Linked DNA regions of Homo sapiens. The protein of the gene in region 4 purifies or fractionates together with the protein of the main gene of each other region. This does not show direct contact. Each region holds a gene or a part of one and is shown on either strand. Other genes may lie near its edges. The genes, in order: TTC1, NUDCD3, MLF1 and NLRP12.

Region 1 (5,417 bases), on a different chromosome or scaffold from region 4:
GGGCAAGGGAAGCTTGTTATCCCCTGCACACCCAGTAAGTAGTAATGTAACTGACTCTATTCCTCCAGTGGCAACTTGTCCAAATAGAGAGCTGAGATCTGAACTCTAGTGAATTGGAAGACCACACATTCTGAAATATTTGCTTTCTAGTTTTTCTCTGCTGCAGCTACAACACAAAGAAGAAAAGATAAAACTCAGTGCCATGGCTGCTTTTGCTCAGGAGGTGTCTCTCAGAGCAGAGCTGAACGCCCCTCTTAGCCATGCCCTCCTCTGGCCTCTAACCCCTCACCTGAGCTGCCTCTATACTCCGTCTCTCAACTCATCAGGGTCATTAAAGTTGAGTGTGCATCAGAAACACTTGAGAGGTTAAAACTTAGATTGCTGAGCTCCATCTTAAATCTCTGATTCAGTAGGTCTGGGGTAGGGCCTGATATCATGCCTTTTGGCATGGTTTTGGCAGGTTCTCAGGTGCTGATGTTCTGGGCACCATATCTGAGATGCAGCTCCAAAAGGTTAACTTGCTTTGCAACTGGTGATTAGAATCTTGATGAGAGAGCTTATATTAAAAAATGAATTGTAAACACCCATCTCTAGTGATTAGAGGGCTAAAGCTGCCTGGGTAGGGCTTCCCCGTTAGACAATGTGAAAAGTAGCCCATGCAGCCTAGGTTACTTTTTGGAGAAAGTAGATGACTCTATCTGCTACCTTATAGTTCAATAAGCTGAGATGACAGATCAAGGAAGAACCAAAAATATATACATACAGATTTTATTGACAATTTCACTTGCTTGAAAGACTTCTTGGCTGGGCCAGCATACGGGATAAAATAACTTGCAAATGATGACAGATGTCTTTACCCTATATTCTTTTCTATCTGGAATCAAAGCTTGTTTGGAGACCTGTATCATCATCCCAGTACAAACCTCTTGCCCTCCCAGCATGGCTGCCATAAATAATGACTCATGTGCAAAGAACCAACCCCCAGGAAGGCACTCCTCCCATAAGGTGACACAGCCACACTTCTCAAGGGACTCCTGAGGGCAGAGCAGTAACCCTGGGAGTTTGTCCTAAGTATCTTACAGTTGAGCAGAGGAGCTTCAGGGTAGCTGAAAGTGTCTCGTCAGTTTTACTTTTAAATGTTTTTTTTCCTATTTACCTATGTGAGCAAAAATTTACTACTGTAAAATTGAAACAATGAAATATACCCATAAAGGCTTAGATATACTCATAAAGGCCGTGTCTGCCATATGAAACCTGACTTCAAATCTTTATGTTCCTCAAACTAACCTGATTATTCTGATTATAAATGCTATACCGTACATTTGAATTTATATAAAACGCTACTTTTTTTTTTTCTATATTGTGGTTTCACATGAGATTTTTCTTTTCTTTTTTCTTTCTTTTTTTGTTTTTGAGACAGGGTCTTGGCTCTGTTGCCCAGGCTGGTACCATCGTAACACTGCAAACTTGACCTCCTGGACTAAGGCAATCCACCTCAGCCTCCCAAGTAGCTGGGACCACAGTCTTGTGCTACCACGCCTGGCTAATTTTTAAAGATTTTGCAGAGATGGGGGTCTTGCCATGTTGCCCAGGCTGGTCTCGAACTGCTGGGCTCAAGCAATCCTCCCACCTTGGCCTCCCAAAATGTTAGGATTACAGGCATGAGCTACTGTACCCAGCCAACTTTTTTCCCAGCTATTTAAGAAAACTGTGAAATCATTCCATTAGAGAGAAAGCAAATAAAGCATCAATGACTAGCTCCTCAAAAATGCTCTGAGCCTCCTGGGATGCTATGTCCAGGGTCTCTATTTCCATCTCATCACACTATCAACCACACATACCCTTAAGTCCTTTTAAACCTTACATTCCTTGGTTATTATGGCTGGGAGGCTAATTATCCCAGAGAAAAGGACCAAACAAACAAACAAACAAACAAAAACAACCAACCCCCACTCCAGCTGCTGACCACTTTCCTCAAGTGATCGTCTTGATGCTATCACGATCATCTTCTGTGATCAGCAAGGACTGTGCCACTAGGACTAATGGCCACCCTGGGTCTCTTGTTCTAAAGATTATAAATGATGGGCTAGAAAGGGCAAAGCAAATAATTGTTCTACCCACTAATAATTCCTATCAGGATTTTTTCCCTCAAGGAGTACATAGCTCTTCTTTCTAATGAAAAGGAAATTACAGAGATGGAAGAAAAAACAAGTTAAAGAATACTGAACACATCTAAATAAAAACCCATTTTGTACTACTCAAGGTGATCCACAGATTCAATGTAATCCCTGTCAAAACACCAATGACATTCTTCACAGAAATAGAAAAATCCTAAAATTTGTATGGAACCACAAAAGACTCTGAAAGCTAAAGTGATCCTGAATAAAAAGAACAAAAGCTACAGGCATAGGCATCACACTACCTGATTTTATAATTTTCTTTTTTTTTAAAGACAAGGTCTCACTCTGTCACCCAGGCTTGAGTGCAGTGGCATCATTGTGGCTCACTGAAGTCTCGATCTCCTGGGCTCAAGTGATCCTCCCACAGCAGCCTCCTAAGTAGCTGGGACTACAGGTGCACACCAGCACACCTGGCTAATTTTTTTAGTGACAGGATTTTGCCATGTTGCCCAGGCTGGTCTTGAACTCGGGCTCAGCCTCCCAAATTGCTGGGATTACAGGTGTGAGCCACCACACCCAGCCCACACTACCCAATTTAAAAAATTTTTAACTGCTTATTCTCCATAGAAGCCATCATTTTAACAGGAACTAGCATAAAGATGATGCAGTCCACTGTGAAAAGCTTGCTCAGAACTTCTAAGTGATATTAATTTGCATTCAGAATGTCTAGCCTCTAGGGAATCTCACAGAACATGAACCAAAGTTACCTCATCAGCAACAAGGAGGAAGGAATACCAGAAAAGCTCTTGTGGGGGCTGAAATTCCATGTAAAGAGTGATTTCTCTCTTCTAGGTTATCTATTGTGGGGTAACACCTAGAGCAGTATCTTATTCATGATTTTTATACTCATTAAGGGAAAAAAGGAATCTAGCCATTCAAACTACACATGTGTAACAACACATATTATTTACAAAGCAACTTAAGTTGGTTAAGTCTAATGGCAGGTGAATTCATTTTAGAAGCAACCGAGGGAATGAATTCAATTTGAATTTTTTCAAATGAAGAGAATGACATAAGAAAAACCCAAAGCCTTGGAGACAGAAAATTCTGGTGCATTAGAATTTATAAAGACAAGGACAAATGGAAGTTTTAATTCCATCTGGAACTAACAATAGGCAGTAAGATTCAGTTTGCACCAGTCCCTTTACTGGACTGGCTTTAAAAAAATGGACTAAGAGACCAATGCCTTCCAGATCCACTATGGCCATTCACAAGGTCATCTTTTTTAGCAAGAAATTCAAATACTAAATGCAAACAGTTTTTTTTTTTTTTTTTTTTTTTTTTGCTAAAATAGAGCATCATTGTTAGTAAAAATAGGTGAGAAAATGCTCTTTTCCCTCTTCTTTGAGACAGGGTCATGCTCTGTTGCCCAGTCTGGAGTGTGGTGGCACCATCATAGCTCACTGCAGCCTCTAACCCTTGGGCTCAAGTGATCCTCCCATGTAGCTGGGACTATGGGCAGGCACATGCCACCATGCCTGACTAATTTTTTGTGGAGATGGGGTTTCACCATGTTGCCTAGGCTGGCCTTGAACTCCTGGGCTCAAGCAATCCTCCTACCTTGGCCTCCTAAAGTGCTGGGATTACAGGAGCCACCGTGCCTGGCCAAGTTTAATTAAATATGTAAATTAGGGGAAAAGCTCCCCCATCCCCCTCCCTTTTTTGGAAAATCTGGGGAAGGCTCCAGAGCTATCCTGAATCGGAAGCAGCCGTCTTTACAGTCTGAGTCTACCCGGCAGGGGCCAAAGTCTCTGGATAGTCTAGGTTAATGGCCTCCTCTCAATCAACTTGGCTATCAGAATGATCCTTTGGGAAATTTGTTCCCATTGTCTGGATGCTGATGTCTGAAGGCCATAAATGCCAGACAGGCTCAATTTATTTTAAATGATTTTTCCTTTAGGGCCACATGATTGCAGTTTATAAAATGTAATTCAAACAACAGATTTAGAAAATACTCAAAAAGGAAAATACATGGCAGATCTTCACCAGCGAAATATCAGACAGGTTACATGTGGAAAAGACTTAAGTCTGTGTTCAGGAACCCTCACTCCTCTTACTTAAGCAGATTGCTCGTGGGAGGTTCCAACTCTAAAATGCTTTGGCAAATATGAGAAATAACTAAACATGGATCAAATGAATCCATTTGCCCTACCCCTACCCCCAGTCTGATTTCTCTTTACTCCTAATTCCTGCCCTCTCGTGTGTTCTCAAACACTAAAGGGACTTTGAGTGCCATTTTCTAAATAAAAATTCTCATGATCTTGACTGCATCCTAATGAACCTCAAGGAATGATTATTCAATGAAGAAACTAAACTGTTTTTATGTAATTGTTATCTGAAATCGAGGTTGGTGGTATCCTAGGATTTTAAATCCCATTTAAGCATAATCCCAGGGAACTGAATTATGCTTAAATTCTTGCAGGCAAGAAAAATTTCCAAGAAAATCAAAAAGGAAATCTGGTTTCCAAAAAAAGCCAATACCCTCTCTAAGCCACGCTGCCCCTTCTGGGGTCAAAATAACTCAGAAGTCAGTAGCCTTGTGGTAGAGTCCGAAACTTTCTAACTCATGTGTTCTCCTCTAGTATTCGCTATGTCCCCACCCTAGGTTCCTAGCTGTTTATGATCAAGCAAAGTAAGAAGTAAGCTTACCTAACATCTCTTCTTTTAGTCTTTCATTACGTTCTTCAATTTGCTTAGGTAATCTCTGAGGAAAAGAGGAGAAACAAGGGTTGGTAAAAAAAAAAAAAAAACCAAAACCTTTCCCTTTATTTTGAATTTGAGAAACACAAGAATCCTAATGTGGAAATAAGATCAAGTTAAGTATGTCTATGATCCTATTAAATAAAAAAAAAAAACCCCAAGTATTTATGTTTGTGGTGCGCTACATAAAGACAAAAGTTCTGTTTGGGCCAGGTGCAGTGACTCCTGCCCATATTCCCAGCACTTTTGGAGGCCGAGTTGGGAGGATCGCTTGAGCTCAGGAGTTTGAGACCACCTTGGGCAACATGGCAAAATGCTGTCTCTACAAGAAATACAAAAATTAGCTGGGTGTGTTGGCATGTGTCTGTAGTCGCAGCTACTCAGGAGGCTGAGGTGGGAGGGTTGCTTGAATCTGGGAGGTTGAGGGTGCAGTATGCCATGACTGTGCCACTGCTCTCCAGCCTGGGAGTCAGAGACCCTTTCTCAAAAAAAAAAAAAAAAAAAAGTTTTGTTTGGCTCTGTTTCCAGTTCTTAATA
Region 2 (5,417 bases), on a different chromosome or scaffold from region 4:
TAGGGCTCAGCCTAATGCATGACAGAATCTCCTGGGGAGTCCTCACCCCATGACAGGGCACCATGCCCTGTCCCCACTTCTTCCTCACTGGGGCCAAGCTTGCTGCATGAGGGGGTCCTCCAGCCCCATTCCCTAAAGTTCTCTGATGGCTTGGGAAGGAGAAACGACCATCAAGAAACAACCCCAAAAGAGGCCTCCTTGGGCACCTCTGTGGGGATGGCACAGACATCCCTTGGTCAAAGGAAGCAGCACCCAGCATTTAAGATCCAGCCCTCAGTGTTGGGGTCTGTGAGACTCATGTCATTACCATAAAAACTTAAAAGACAACTGGAACTGCAGTATGAGAGCAAACGTGAGGGGTGCTGTATGTACCTAGGTGACCCTGGCTGCTTGGCCTGTCCCAGGGACACAGAGGAGGGCCCTGGCCACACCATGCCCTGTTATCAGTGGTCATACAGACACAGAAAACAAGAAAACTGGCTGCATCTGCTGTGGTCAGTGGCTGGGCTCAAAATTCTTACCAGAGTGGCCAAGAAGCAACAGAGTGGGTTTGTCTACTTTGCCCTAGATGAGCACTGCACTTTTTCAACAGAAATACTTGATCTGTGTTTAGATTTCATAATATTTACAATTGAAAGAGGTACATTCACATGCCCAAGTGTGATGGGACTCTCTGATGGGATTAAACCACTAGGTGCTCACAGAAAGGGAGAAAAGGTAGCAAAGGGCCCGCAAGTGAGAGCAGCTCTCATCCATGGAGGTGGCAGCCACCAGGACACTTACTGACCAGGTGGGCAAAACCTACCAAGCCACACTCAGGGTAACTGTGACACTCAAGAGGTCACAGTGAGTCCACAGGACACCACGTCCCCCCAAGAGGGAGCACTGGAGACTCACCAGTATACACGGGCTTGAGAGAGCAGTGTCCTAACACTGCACCTTCCACCTTCCCACCTCCAAGCTCCTGCTGCCAAAACCTACCCACACCAAAGAAGGTACTCAGCACCAGACTCTGCAGAGCCCAGGGATCAAGTCCGAGAATGTGTTCTACTAATGAAGAGGGTGGGCACCGATGTGGTGCGGGAGAGCACACAGTGGAGATTTTCCAGAACTGGGAAGAGCAAGACAAAAACCTGCAATCATGATCTGAAGCCAGCATCCCAGAAATCTTGTCTGACATTCCGAATGCAGATAGGGGGAGTGGTGAACAGGGGGAGTGGGTGGCTCCCCTACACGCCAGCTCTACCCAGTAAATGACGCTGCTCTGCCAGTGTGCAATTTAAATTTGGGATGAATCTTCCATTTCCAGATACTCTGCTAAGCTGGTTTGTCGTTGACTTTACAGTTTGTGTGACGGGGACCTGACTCACCCTCAGAGACCCCAACACTACAAACTCTACCTCGTCTTTACCAAGCTGATGCAATGAAAACCTTCCAAGAGGGAAATGCATTGTTTTCTCTATTCCAGGGAAGACTTCAGAGGAACTCACAGAACTGTAAATCTCTGGAAAGAAGAGATCCTTTACGAATTTTTTATCTTCACCAGTAGTTATTACTGTGATCCATGTAACTTATTTTATTAGCGTTCACAAGTCCTGTAAAACACATACCATTACCATTTACCATACATACCATTTTTTGTATTTAAAAATGAGGACAAACCCTTGGAAGTAAGGGCCTTTTCCAGATTGCCCAGCATGAAGAGGCAAAGCAGAGCTACACTGGGGCTGACAGCCCACCATCAGCACCATGTGGGCAGGGGGTCGGCCTACATACCATCCAGGGGACGGTGCTGGTGCTCTCAGGCCTTTTGGCACTCCACAGACCCCAACACAGGGTTTCACTGGCCAGGTCCAAACACACACCCAGAGTGGAGGGCTCCTGGGCACAGTGGGAGATGGACCTGAAGACAATGAGCCACCTGCCCAACAGGAAGGAGGGGAACATCCCCAAATCTTCTGTGTCCACAAGTGTACTTTGGACACAGAAGTACACTTGAACCCAACAAAAATTAAGATGAGCACTGCACTTTTTCATCAGAAATACTTCATCTGTGTTCAGATTTCATAATATTTACAATTGAAAGGGTATATTCACATGCCCAAGTTGTTTCAAAAATATTCAAGGTTTTCCAGTAACTAAATCAAGTAGGTTTTAAATTTAAGTTAATTAAAATAAAATAATTCAGTTCTCCAGTCACGTGAGCCACCTGTCAAGTGTTTACTCAGCTGCCACATGTGGCTAGCAGCTACTGTGCTGGGCAGTGCAGCTCTCCAAGGGGGCCATCCTCACTCACAGACGTCACGCATGTGCATCAGTGTGGTATTTTATGAGGAGATGTGAGCCGACTTTATATTGAACAATTTCTAATGGAGGCAAAATCCACTTAACACAAAACTTACCATTCAAAAGTGAACCAATGGCATGTAGTATATCCACAATGGTGCACAACCATCACCTTTATCTAGTTTCAAAACACTTTCATTACCTCACAAAGAAGCCCTGTGCCAATTATCAGTCACTCCCCATTTGCTCTAACCCTTCCTCTAAATTGTTCCCTCAACCCCACCAAGCCACTGGCAACTACTAATGATTCTGCCTCTACAGATTTGCCGGTTCTGGACATTTCACACAAATGGAATAATACAGTTATCTGTTTGTTTTTGTCTGGCTTATTTCACTTGGCATAATGTCCTCCTCAATGTTCATCTATGTTGTAGCATGAATCAGAACTCCATTCCTTTTTAAGGTTGAATAATATTCCACTGTATGGATAAACCACATTTTGTTTCATCAACTGATGGACATTTCAGGTGCCCCCACTTTTTGGCTGTTGTGAATAATGCTGCTATGAACATTGATGTACATACATCTGTTTGAGTCCCTGTTTTCAATTCTTCTGTATATTTACCCAGAAGTGCTGGGTCATATGGTAATTCTACAGTTAACTTTTTGAGGAACTACCATACTATTTTCGAAAGCAGCTGCACCACTTTACCTTCCCACCAGCGGCATACAATGGCTCCAGTTTCTCCATACCCTCACCAACACTTGTTATCTTCTGTTGTGTGTGTGTGTGTGTGTGTGTGTGTGTGTGTGTGTGTTTAATTACAGCCATCCCACAGGTGTGGCTAGCACCACTGGTCCTTTGTCCTGACCATATACACACAGGCCTGCCTCCTCTGCCTTCCAGACCTGCTCCAGTCAAGTTTCCATCTGTCATCACTGTAACCAAGTGGGCTGCCCTCCATGCTGGGGCAGCAAACAGGACCTGAGGTGTTGTCTATAAAGGTTCTTGTAAAGGCTCTGGAAGAGGAAGGTCTCAGTTGCAAAATTTTAATTATTTATTTATTTAGTACCCTTAGAATATCTTCTATTTTTAAGGATGAGCATATTAGTAAAAACAATATGAACAATATTATTAGCATGATAATTATTCTAAACAAGGGCATTCTAACATCGTTATTGACTTGCCTGGAGTCCCTCTCCACACTGTTCCTTTACAGAATTCCATCTCTCACTCTGAGCTGCAGATCCCCATTCCTTTCTCCTTCCCAAACTCCAGACCTTTTTTTTTAATGGCCCACGCCTCGTAAGTCATTGAGCTGACAAGCTTCTTTATGCTCTGAACATTCTCATGTTCTATAAACTGGTTTAATGTGTAAATGTTTCTGCTGTCACTGTCCACATTTAACTACTTTCCTTAGAGTAATGCTTCTGGGAGGCCTCAGATATGACTTCTGGTAGTTAACCTTAAAAACCACTGAATGGTACAGAGCATACAGGTCTTGCAGGGCTGTCTTCCGACACCCAGTGCAAGATGCAGTTCTGGGAGGACATGGGTACAATGTTCCTAGGATGGAGTTCAAAGACCTCTATCTAAAAATAACACCTCTGATAAAGTAGTCTGATGGTTTTACATTTGTTTTTGTTTTTTTCTGTGAATATTTTATTTTTTTAAAGTCAAGTTTGTGGAGGTATAGTATGCACATAGTAAAAATCACTCTTTTGAGGTCACATCTCCATGAGCTACTGCTACAATCAACCCACATCCCAGCAGCCCCGTTCCCCTTCTCAGCAGTCCTCTCAGCCCGATGCTCGTTTTGCCATCCAGCATGTCCGTGTCCAGAATGTCACATGTGTGGAATCACACAGTGTGCAGCCCTGTATCTGCTGCCTCCTTTGAGTGTGGGGACTCTTGACGCTCAGCCACACTGTGCTTCATGGCACAGGCAGACCACACACTTGTTTGTGGACATGTGGGCATTTCCATTGTTTTGCAATCAGGTAGAGAGCTGCTGTAGAGATCTGCCTGCTTTCTATTCTCCTTGGTAAGTAGCCAGGAATGCGTGTGTTGGGTCACGTGATGTCAGCTACTGTCCAGACTGACCACTCTGCTGCACCCCTACCAGTAGCACAGAAGAGCACCAGGTGCCCCATCTCATTTAGCGCTTGGTGCTGTCTGCCTTCTTAGCAGCTCTTCTAAGAGGTGTCTAGGGGCATCTCATCATGGTTTTGCCTTGCATTCCCCTAATGAATCATGACGTTAAGCTTCTCATGTGCTTATTAGCCTTCTCATTTTTTTTAACATTTTATTTGTAAAGAATTTTAAGCTTAAAGTTACTAGAATAAGTACAAAGACACCCATACAAGTGTTTAGCAGCTGTGTGTCTGTACACAGCTCTCTCACTCTATATGTATGCTGTATGTATAATATATAATAACATAGTATTTTCTCTGAATCATTTAAGAATAGGTTGCATTCATCTTGGCCCTTTGTCCTGAGTTATTTCCTAAGGACAAGGAAATAACTTATGATGATTTACGGAACAGGGTCCAGTCCAGAGTCCTTCCTGCATCTTGGGGGTCCTGTCCTCTTTAATCTAGGACATTTCCACAGCCTTTTTCCTCCCCTGACATCTCCTGATTAACTCATGTGTGCACACCCAGCTGGACACACATGTGTTCCACCTGCAGGCACACAACATCCACAGCCCTCAGTGGGTGGGGTGTTCACTCAGGTTACCTGGCCAAAGGGAGGTCTGACTTCTCCACTGTAGTTATTGACTTGCAAACTCTCCTCTCCAGAACCCCTGCATCCCTGCTCCACCCTGCCCCGCATAGCATCTGCCGGTCCCATCTGTCCCACGAAGGCTGGGAAATGCTGACTTTCTTGCCCTAGTCCCTCCACACTGACTGATGGCTTATGCATCTTATTGAAGCAAGCACCTTCTCTTCTGCAATGAAATTATCTATCTATTGCTGTCAGTACTGACCCCTGGATTCCTGGCCTCTCTGGTCTCTCAATGGCTTATAACTCATTACCATGCTTAATTATGTTGGTGTGAAACAATCCCAGACAAGGTTGGTGGAGGTTGCTTGACTTTGATGGTGCTCAATCATTTCCCTGGCACGTT
Region 3 (5,417 bases), on a different chromosome or scaffold from region 4:
TAAAAAACCAAACTATTTTAGAAACAACTTTTACCTTCTTTTAAGTTCTCGGGAGCCAGGATTCTCATGGCCAACACTTCTCATTCTAGTGTTTCCTAGATTGTGTCGTCCTGGTTTGTACTTCAAAACCTCACTTTGCCACTCCTCATCAAAAGCATGAGCATCACCTATGTCAAACAGAAAAATAATGGGAATAAGTATTAAGGTATCAACTGTCAGTAACTGCCTTGCTCCCACATATTTCAGTCTAGTCTGGTGTTTTCATTAGTGTAACCTCAATACAGAGGCAGGAAGCTGCTTCAAATATAAGGGTCTTTGACAAAAGTAGTATTTGTTTTCCTGTCTGTTCCTCTCCTATTCCTACTGATGATCTAGTTATTGATGATCTATTTTTTCAACTGCCTGGATAACATATTATTCTACCCAATGGACCAGCTGACCTAATTATATTAACTAACAGTTTTTCTTCCTGGGTCATCTCACAGTGAATATACTCTTCCTGTATAGTGTATACTTCTGTGGCTAGCACTTCTATTCACCTAACCATCTTTCTGTGTAACTTGACCTCACAAGTTTCTGTTGTCAATTTCCTAAGACAGGTTACTCAGCTAGAATGTCAATTCATGTTGTTATGAAGTAATCTAACTTCCATAATAGCAACAATAGAGACATGATAGTACTTCTTAAGACTGCTTTAAAATATTATGTTCCTTCACTCAATTTTTCATCAAAATGTTGATTATTGTGAAATACTCAGTATATATATAAATGTGATAAAATTACAGAGGTTACAAATAAACACAGGTCACAATATCATGGCTTCTATCTTACTGCATAAGAATAATTTTATCAAACCCCAGCCAGGTGTGGTGGCTCACGCCTGTAATCCCGGCACTTTGGGAGGCTGAGGTGGGCGGATCACAAGGTCAGGAGATCAAGACCATCCTGGCTAACATGGTGAAACCACGTCTCTACTAAAAATAGAAAAAATTAGCCAGGCATGGTGGCGGGCACCTGTAGTCCCAGCTACTCAGGAGGCTGTGGCAGGAGAATGGCGTGAACCTGGGAGGCGGAGCTTGCAGTGAGCCGAGATCACACCACTGCACCACTGCACTCCAGCCTGGACAACAGAGCGAGACTCCGTCTCAAAAAAAAAAAAAAAAAAAAGAATAATTTTATCAAACCCCAATGTTAATAGAATTTCTTCCTCCCCTCCACCCAACACAGTCTTGCTCTTTTGCCCAGGCTGGAGTGCAATGCGTGATCTTGGCTCACTGCAACCTCTGCCTTCCGGGTTCAAGAGATTCTCCTGTCTCAGCCTCCCAAGTAGCTGGGATTACAGGCGCGGGCCACCATGCCCAGCTGATTTTTGTATTTTTATTTATTTTATTTATTTATTTTTTTGAGACAGAGTCTCGCTCTGTCGCCCAGGCTGGAGTGCAAGGGCTCGATCTTGGCTCACTGCAACCTCCGCCTCCTGGGTTCAAGCGATTCTCCTGCTTCAGCCCCACGAGTAGCTGGGATTACAGGCACGTGCACCACCATGCCCGGCTAATTTTTGTATTTTTAGTAGAGACGGGGTTTCACCATGTTGGTCAGGCTGGTCTTGAACTCCTGACCTCGTGATCTGCCCGCCTTGGCCTCCCAAAGTGCCAGGATTACAGGCGTGAGTCACTGTGCCGGGCCCTGATTTTTGTATTTTTAGTAGAGATGGGGTTTCACCATGTTGGCCAGGCTGGTCTCGAACTTATGACCCCATGATCTACCTGCCTCGGCCTCTCAAAGTGCTGGGATTACAGGCATGAGCCACCGTGCCCGGCCAGAATTTCTTTTTTAATACAACAATTTAAAATTTAAACACTCTATTATGGAAAAACATTATTCAAAATACTTTCTGAAACTAGGAGATGAATCCAACTAAATTTTAATATAATTTCATTATTGAATTAATACAATTAAATATAAAAGCTTAATATTGATTTAAAAATTAATAAAAATAATTTAAATTTAATGATTAAATTTGTTAATAAATTGTAATATAATTAAAAACTACAGGGAGAAGAGTTAGGACACTAGAAGGATGTAAATGCATTGAAGAATAAATACAAAATCCAGAAAAAGAAAAGATTTACTTGAGAGAGAGAGACATACATGTAATCTAACATATAACAGAAATTAAAATCTTGTCTATACAAAAGCCTAAGTACTACTGAACAGTACAGAATGATTTAAGTAAAAATTATGGCTTATTTACAATAAAACTTTAAGGTAACCACTTAAAATGCTTTTGAAAAATAGCATCATAAGTAACTTTACAATTATAATGGTAAATTAAAATAAGCACAATATAAACTATATAAAAGTAGAATAATAATTTGAGAAAAAAGTGTTTATATATATAAAATGATTAGGAAGAAATACATTAAAATATTACTAGTATTTTGAGTTTGGATTATGGATTATTTTTGTCTTTATACTTTTCAAATGTACTTTCTTGATAATCAGAAAAAATATTTAAAGACACATTTTGCCTAATGATATTACTAAATAACAATTCAAAAGATTCCACTTTCCAAGGATAAAATAAAAATAAGTAATATCCCATATTGCCAAAAATCACTATAAAAAAGAGCTCTCCTATGAAAGGATGAAAACACAATCCTATTACTTTCACAAGGTATTCTCTACATGCATTATTCAAAAACTACATCTTATGACATGTTTCTAAAAAAAAATTCATCAAGTACGGCTGTTATTTTAAATTTATAAGAAAGAATATTATTTTTTTGTGATAACTTACTTTCATTCATATTGATGAACTCCTGGTTGACCTCTTCATCTCCAGTCTTCTTGTTCTTTGACTTTTTAATGACATGAGCTCGGTCATGGATATGATGACCAATAGCCATTTTTTCTAGTCCACTGTCAGAATCTCTCATTGCTTTCCTGGTTTCCTTTATCTGTAAAAATAAAGAAATTTTATTATTATTTAAATATATATAGAATGTATATCTCAGGGCCAGCTTACCTACAGAGATATGGCCATAGATCTATTGCTCTAAAAATAATGTGTGCTCAGTTCCACTATTAACTTGTGGTAAAACTGTGGTAATAAGTCTCTGATATTTCCTGAACTCCTTAAAATGAAAATGTCTACAACAAACAGAACCCATACAATTTAACCTTTTTCCAAATTGTAATCAAATATTAAAACAAAAGTAGCAATTATAGTTTAATGCCTTCAAGACTGTCTTAGATAATGTAATAGAAGGAAGTTTATGGTGGGATTCCTACAAATAAGGGCAACTAATTATTCATCAGTCATATTGATTGGCTTGAATCTCATGATTCCCGACTATCAACTCTATGGAAGTATTATAAGAATATTTCTGATAGCAACTAACATGATTTACTGTGGGACATCTACAATTATATTCTGTTTACATTTAAGTTTGTCACTTTTAGAAAGTTAAAATTAAAATGTCTGAGATTAATTAGCAGAACTATGGCAAAAGCATCATTAAAAGGTTCATCTTTATATGTAAGAACTAAAAAATGTACTACTTCACATTCATTAGATTGGTAAACCTAAATTTTTACTATAAGTACTAACAAGGAAGTAGAGAAATGGAAACTCACAAGCCACAGTTTTGGAAGCCAACAATTTCAATCACTGGGATAGTAGCTTGGAAACGCTAGGTAAAGAGGAAAGTACACATACCCTACAACTCAGCAATACCACTCCTAGACTCTGTATAAGGAGCCATGTATAAAGATGAATTAGTGAAAGATTAGACTCACCTACATATCTATTGACAGAAAATGATTTAAAAATCATGGTACATTCATATTTTGGATATTACATAGAAGTTAAAGAAACCAGGGCCACATGTATCAACTTGAATAAATCTCAGAAGCGTATTAATCATAATATATTCATATTTTGGATACTACATAGAAGTTAAAGAAACCAGGGCCACATGTATCAAGCTGAATAAATCTCAGAAGCATATTACTCAGCAAAGACAAGTTGCAGAGGACATATGCAATATGATACCCTTTATGTAATGTTGGGAAATCTGGAAAATAATCCATTTTTTTAATGACAGAAACGTGAAGTAATAAAATTGTAAAAACATGCGTGAAAATGATAAACTCCAGATACAGGAAAATGGTAATCTCTGAGAAGGGGAGAAAGGGAAAATAGACCTCAGAGGAATGTATTAGAAGGTTTAACTGCCTCTGTACATTTTCGCTTAAAAAGAAAACAAAGCAAGAGACAACTTGAAGCAAATAGAGAAAAATGTTATGATATGACTAAACTGGGTGGCAGGAATATGGGCACTTATTATGTTATTCTCTATATCCTTTCTGTACACTTGAAATATTTCATGAGTTAAAAAATTAATTCACTTCAAATGTAAACTTAAAAATAGACATTAATTTCATGAAACAAAGGCTTCTTTTCGTGTTTTGTTTACCTTGTCAACATGTAAAGGTAATAAACATCCATAGATATTTACATGAAAAAAGGCACCCTCACGGGGGGGTGGGGGGGCTACAAAAAAAATGCCACAAACTAAGTAAATACAGTTGAGCTTTAATGGTTTCCACAGTGAGGACTACCTTACCCCCAACCCCCACACCTCCCTCCTGTCCCCCCACCATCTTGTACCAGATTAAATTTTAATAGTTAAAATTTGATCTAGACAGTCTATCATCCCCTAACTTTATAAAACTTTAGGAATGCTTATAGAAAACTTACTCCTCCTGGAGCTCGACGAGTTTGAGTTGAGGCCTGAAAAACCTTTGGCGGTTCATCTCCTATTTTGGAATAAGTCATAACTGAGGAAGAACAAAATGAATGTCCATTTGGATCCACTGAAAGTTGACCCTACAGGTAAACAAATTGTAAATTCAGTCGAGTCAAATATAAATAATTATTGCCAGAGAGTTCAAATAAGTAACAACACTAGCTGTAAGTTCTACTAAGGATACTAAACTACCAATATGGTGTAGTCAAAGGCACACCCAGGTTCTCAAGTGAGAAGTGACTTGAAAAATTACCTCCGCCCAAAAAAAGTCACCCCTAGAGGGTCCTAACGGTCGTCCATTTTAGGTACAATTATCCCACTCTCGTTACAAAGACTAATAAGTGACTCACTCAGAGATCCTTAAGTCTTTGGGTGCTCGTGGCTTAGATTTCAATAAAGATGCTATGCCCCCAAACCTGTGATACTTCTATAGTCAGTGGTTGACCCTTGTGTGTAATCTTGCCAACATTAAGCCAATCAATTAGTTATACATCAAGTTTCGTACCTCCTCCTGTAGGTACCAGATTGCTACATTACTAAAACCAATAATGCCCTAGATTATTTGGGCATTCTGAAATGATCCATAGAATTCAAACTGGATGA
Region 4 (5,417 bases):
TGAGCCACCACACCCAGCCTCTATATCCCTTTTATCGGTGGACCCAACAATCTTCTGTAGACAGAAGACTGTGTGAATAAGCCAATGGTCCCAAGAGAGCACGCATCCTAATGAGAACGGAGACAGATAATAAAGAGGGAAACAAGTAAACCAACTATCAATGATTAGGAGCGTCAGATAGAGCCAGGTGCAGCCTGGACAACATGATGAGATCCCCATCTCTAAAAATATAAAATAAATTAGCTGGTCATGATGGTGCACACCTGTAGCCCCAGCTTCTCAGTAGGCTGAGGTGGGAGGATTGCTTAAGCCTGGGAGGTCAAGCCTACAGTGAGCCATGATCTCACCATGCACTCCAGCCTAGACAACAGGGCAAGGCCCTCTAAAAAAAAAAATGAAAAGATAGCATGCTTTGGCCGGATGTGGTGGCTCACGCCTGTAATCCCAGCACTTCAGGAGGTTGAGGCGGGCAGATCACCTGAGGTCAGGAGTACGAGATCAGCCTGGCCAACACGGTGAAACCCCATCTCTACTAAAAATACAAAATTAACTGGGCGTGGTGGCTCATGCCTGTAATCCCAGCTACTCTGGAGGCTGAGGCAGGAGAATCGCTTGAACCCAGGAGGCGGAGGTTGTGGTGAGCTGAGATTGCGCCATTGCACTCCAGCCTGGGCAACAAGAGCGAAACTCCGTCTCAAAAAAGGATAGCATGCTTCATAAACGGTGAAATGACATGCAAAGGCCATAGTTGTCAAGCACCAGTAACACCAGAGAGTGGCCTGTCTTTCCTTCAAGCAGACCAGAGAGGACCGTTCTGCTGGACGCCTACAGTGAACATCTGGCAGCGGCCCTGTGCACCAATCCAAACCTGATAGAGCTGTCTCTGTACCGAAATGCCCTGGGCAGCCGGGGGGTGAAGCTGCTCTGTCAAGGACTCAGACACCCCAACTGCAAACTTCAGAACCTGAGGTGAGTGCAGGCTGGTCTGGGCGTTTCAGGTGGTCCCCACCGTGGCCTCTCATGGGGATCAGTCACAAAGGTTCTATCACGGGATGGTGTATTCGTTGGCTACGGCTGCCATAAAAAAGTGTCACAAAGCCAGGTGCCGTGGCTCACGTCTGTAATCCCAGTATGTTGACAGGTGAAGGCGGGCAGATCACTTGAGGTCAGGAGTTTGAGACCAGCCTGGCCAACATGGCAAAATGCCATCTCTACAAAAAATACAAAAATCAGGAGGGTGTGGTGGCGGGCGCCTGTAATCCCAGCTGCTTGGGAGGCTGAGGCAGGAGAATCGCTTGAACCTGGGAGGCGGAGGTTGCAGTGAGCCGGGATTGTGCCACTGCACTCCAGCCTGGGTGATACGGTGAGACTCCATCTCAGGGGGGAAAAAAGTGCCAAAGACTGGGTGGCTTCACCACATAAATCTATTTTCTCAAGGCAGGTGGGGGGCTGCTGGAAGTCCAAGACAAGGAGTGGGCAGGTTAAGTTCTTCTGAGGCCTCTGTCCTGGGCCTGCAGATCACTGCCTTCTGTCTTCACATGGTCATCCTGCTGTGTGGGTCTCCAAATTTTTTTCTTTTTTTTACTTTTTTTTTTTTTAAATTTTTGAGACACTGATATGCTCTGTCACCCAGGCTGGAGTGCAGTGGCACAATCATGGCTCACTGCAGCCCCAAACTCCTGGACTCAAGCGATCCTCTTGCTCCAGCATCACGAGTAGCTGGGAAAACAAGCATGTGCAACCACACCCGGCTAATTTCTTTTTTTTTTTTTTTTTTTTTTTTTGAGACGGAGTCTTGCTTTGTCACCAGGCTGGAGTGCAGTAGCGTGATCTCGGCTCACTGCAACCTCTGCCTCCTGGGTTCAAGCGATTCTCCTGCCTCGGCCTCCTGAGTAGCTGGGACTACAGGCAGGTGCCACCATGCCCAGCTAATTTTTTGTATTTTTAGTAGAGACGGGGTTTCACCATATTAGCCAGGATGGTCTCAATCTCTAACCTCGTGATCCACCCACCTCGGCCTCCCAAAGTGCTGGGATTACAGACTGAGCCACCGTGCCCAGCCACACCAGGCTAATTTTTGTATGTTTTGGAGAGATGGGGTTTCACCATGCTGCCCATACTGGTCTCAAACTTCTGGCCTCAAGTGATCCTCCTTCCTCAGCCTCCCTAACTGTTGAGATTACAGGTGTGAGCCACTGTGCCTAGCCAAATTTTTTTCATATGTTATTTTTTGAGATAGTATTGCTCTGTAGCCTGGGCTGGAGTGCAGTGACATGATCTCGACTCACTGCAACCTCCGCCTCCTGAGTTCAAGCAATTCTCCTGCCTCAGCCTCCTGATTAGCTGGGATTACAGGGGTGCATCACCACACCCAGCTAATTTTTGTGTTTATAGTAGAAATGGGGTTTCACTGTGTTGGCCAGGCTGGTCATAAACTCCTGACCTCAGGTGATCCACCCACCTCGGCCTCCCAAAGTGCTGAGATTACAGGCTTGAGCCACCGCACATGGCCTTGAATTTCTTTAAGGGCAACCTTTGTGAATGTATTTGACTACAAAGCATCAAAACATTTTATATTGTTCTTGTTGCTTTTCTTGACAGGTAAAATTTATCATATATAACATGATATTTTGAAATAAATATATTGGCCAGGTATGATGGCTCACGCCTGTAATTCCAGCACTTTGGGAGGCCCAGATGGGGAGGATCACTTGACCCAGGAGTTCAAGACCAGCCTGGCCAACATGGTGAAACCCCATCTCTACTAAAAATACCAAAATGAGCCAGGCATGGTGGCACACGTCTGTAAGCCCAGCTACTCAGGAGGCCAAGGCAGGAGGATTGCTTCAACCCAGGAGGCAGAGGTTGTGGTAAGCCAAAATCATGCCACTGCTCTCCAGCCTGGGTGACAGAGCGACTCTGTCTCAGAAAAAAAAAAAAAAGCAAAAGAAAATAATCCACAAAACTGGAGCAAAAGAAATGACCAGCTCCTTTCTCCTCTTTTCCACCCCAGGCTGAAGAGGTGCCGCATCTCCAGCTCAGCCTGCGAGGACCTCTCTGCAGCTCTCATAGCCAATAAGAATTTGACAAGGATGGATCTCAGTGGCAACGGCGTTGGATTCCCAGGCATGATGCTGCTTTGCGAGGGCCTGCGGCATCCCCAGTGCAGGCTGCAGATGATTCAGTGAGTCTCTATCCCCGGGAGCAACTTCTTAAGCTCATTGTCTCCTGGGGCATGAAATATCACAAAATGCTGGTAATCCCCAAATCTCCACCTTTAAATCAGGGCTGGCCCTTAACCCCATGACCTAAGACCCTGGCCCTGGACTCTAGGCACTTTGGAAGACCTGCTTCTGCCCTCCTCTGACTCCACACTCAATTCTACATGATGAAGAGTCCCTGGGGCCATCCCCCACCTCTTCTTTTTTTCTCCCGAGACGGGGTCTTGCTATGTTGCCCAAGTTGGGGTGCAGTGGCACAATCTCGGCTCACTGCAACCCCCACTTCCTGCGTTCAAGTGATTCTCCTGCCTCAGGCTCCCAAGTAGCTGGGATTACAGGCACCCACCACCACACCCAGCTAACTTTTTTGTATTTTTAGTAGAGATGGGGTTTCCTCACGTTGGCCAGGCTGGTCTTGAACTCCTGACCTCAAATGATCCACCCACCTTGGCCTCCCAAAGTGCTGGAATTACAGGTGTGAGCCACTGCACTCGACCTACAAAAATTTTTTTTTTTTAATTAGCCAGGTATGGGCCAGGAGCGGTGGTTCACGTCTATAATCCCAGCACTTTGGGAGGCCAAGGCAGGCGGATCACCTGAGGTCAGGAGTTCGAGACCAGCCTGGCCAACACGGAGAAACACCCCGTCTCTACTAAAAATGCAAAACTTAGCTGGGCGTGGTGGCACACACCTGTAGCCCAGCCTGTAGTCCCAGCTACTCGAGACTGAGGTATGAAAATCACTTGAACCCAGGAGGTGGAGGTTGCGGTGAGGCAAGATCACGCCACTGTACTCCAGCCTGGGTGACAGAATGAGGTTCTACCTCAAAAAAAAAAAAAAACAAAAAAACCCAAAAAAAACAAAAAACAAACAAACAAAAAAAATTAGGCAGGTGTGGTGGTGCACACATGTATTCCCAGTTACTCAGGAGGCTGAGGCAGGAGGATCACGGGAGCCTGGAGGTCGAGGCTTCAGCGAGTTGATATCACTCCACTGAACTTCACCCTGGGTGACAGAGCAACAACCTGTTCCTAAATAATAAAATAACAGGCTGGAGCATGAGTGATCACGACATAGAAAAGCAAGATGGCGTCCCCTTCAACCTCTCCTTCCTCCCAAGGTTGAGGAAGTGTCAGCTGGAGTCCGGGGCTTGTCAGGAGATGGCTTCTGTGCTCGGCACCAACCCACATCTGGTTGAGTTGGACCTGACAGGAAATGCACTGGAGGATTTGGGCCTGAGGTTACTATGCCAGGGACTGAGGCACCCAGTCTGCAGACTACGGACTTTGTGGTGAGTTCTTCCTGGGGTCAACTATAATAAAATGGCAAATCTCTTCATATTGAATGATGGTATAAAAATGCATCCACAGGTCGGGCGCAGTGGCTCACGCCTGTAATCCCGGCACTTTGGGAGGCCAAAGAGGGCAGATCATCTGAGGTCAGGAGTTCGAGACCAGCCTGGCCAACACGGTGAAACCCCCTCTCTACTAAAGATACAAAAATTAGCTGGATGTGGTGGCACACGCCTGTAATCACAGCTACTCAGGGGGCTGAGGCAGGAGGATCACTTGAACCTGAGAGGCGGAAGTTGCAGTGAGCTGAGATCACGTCACTGCACTCCAGCCACGGTGACAGAGTGAGACTCCATCTCAAAAAACAAAGTAGAATAGTGGCTGCCAAGGCCTAGAACAGGAAGAAATGGGGAGTTACCGTTTAACGGGAGCAGAGGTTCCATTTCGGAAGATGAAAAAGTTCCAGAGATGGGCCGGGTGCGGTAGTTCACGCCTGTAATCCCAGCACTTTGGGAGGCCGAGGTGGGCAGATCACCTGAGGTCTGGAGTTCGAGACCAGCCTGACCAACATGGAGAAGCCCCGTCTCTACTAAAATACAAAATTAGCCAGGCGTGGTGGCACATGCCTATAATCCCAACTACTCGGGAGGCTGAGGCAGGAGAATCACTTGAACTTGGGAGGCGGAGGTTGTGGTGAGCCAACACTGTGTCATTGCACTCCAGCCTGGACAACAAAAACGAAACTCCGTCTCAAAAAAAAAAAAAGTTCCAGAGATGGATAGCAGTGATGATTTCCCAGTAGCGTGAAACTACTTCATGCCACTGAGCCACAGTCAGCCCTCTGTGTCCACGGGTTCTGCATTCGTGAATTTCATCAACCATGGATCAAAAATATTCAGAAGGG

Evidence for each region.
Region 1: the proteins of NLRP12 (region 4) and TTC1 purify together in Homo sapiens (affinity purification with a luminescence readout; one large-scale study listed by IntAct). This does not show direct contact.
Region 2: the proteins of NLRP12 (region 4) and NUDCD3 purify together in Homo sapiens (affinity purification with a luminescence readout; one large-scale study listed by IntAct). This does not show direct contact.
Region 3: the proteins of NLRP12 (region 4) and MLF1 purify together in Homo sapiens (affinity purification with a luminescence readout; one large-scale study listed by IntAct). This does not show direct contact.

The regions. Positions count from the first base shown.
Region 1 is NC_000005.10:160,050,596-160,056,012, reverse strand, and holds part of TTC1 (tetratricopeptide repeat protein 1), read right to left. Parts: intron 4,885-5,417; coding exon 4,830-4,884; intron 1-4,829.
Region 2 is NC_000007.14:44,393,023-44,398,439, forward strand, and holds part of NUDCD3 (nudC domain-containing protein 3), read right to left. Parts: intron 1-5,417.
Region 3 is NC_000003.12:158,597,557-158,602,973, reverse strand, and holds part of MLF1 (myeloid leukemia factor 1), read right to left. Parts: intron 4,895-5,417; coding exon 4,766-4,894; intron 2,961-4,765; coding exon 2,801-2,960; intron 168-2,800; coding exon 35-167; intron 1-34. UniProt on the Homo sapiens protein: Involved in lineage commitment of primary hemopoietic progenitors by restricting erythroid formation and enhancing myeloid formation.
Region 4 is NC_000019.10:53,803,047-53,808,463, reverse strand, and holds part of NLRP12 (NACHT, LRR and PYD domains-containing protein 12), read left to right. Parts: intron 1-795; coding exon of another isoform or gene 796-798; coding exon 799-969; intron 970-3,013; coding exon 3,014-3,184; intron 3,185-4,341; coding exon 4,342-4,512; intron 4,513-5,417. UniProt on the Homo sapiens protein: Plays an essential role as an potent mitigator of inflammation. Primarily expressed in dendritic cells and macrophages, inhibits both canonical and non-canonical NF-kappa-B and ERK activation pathways.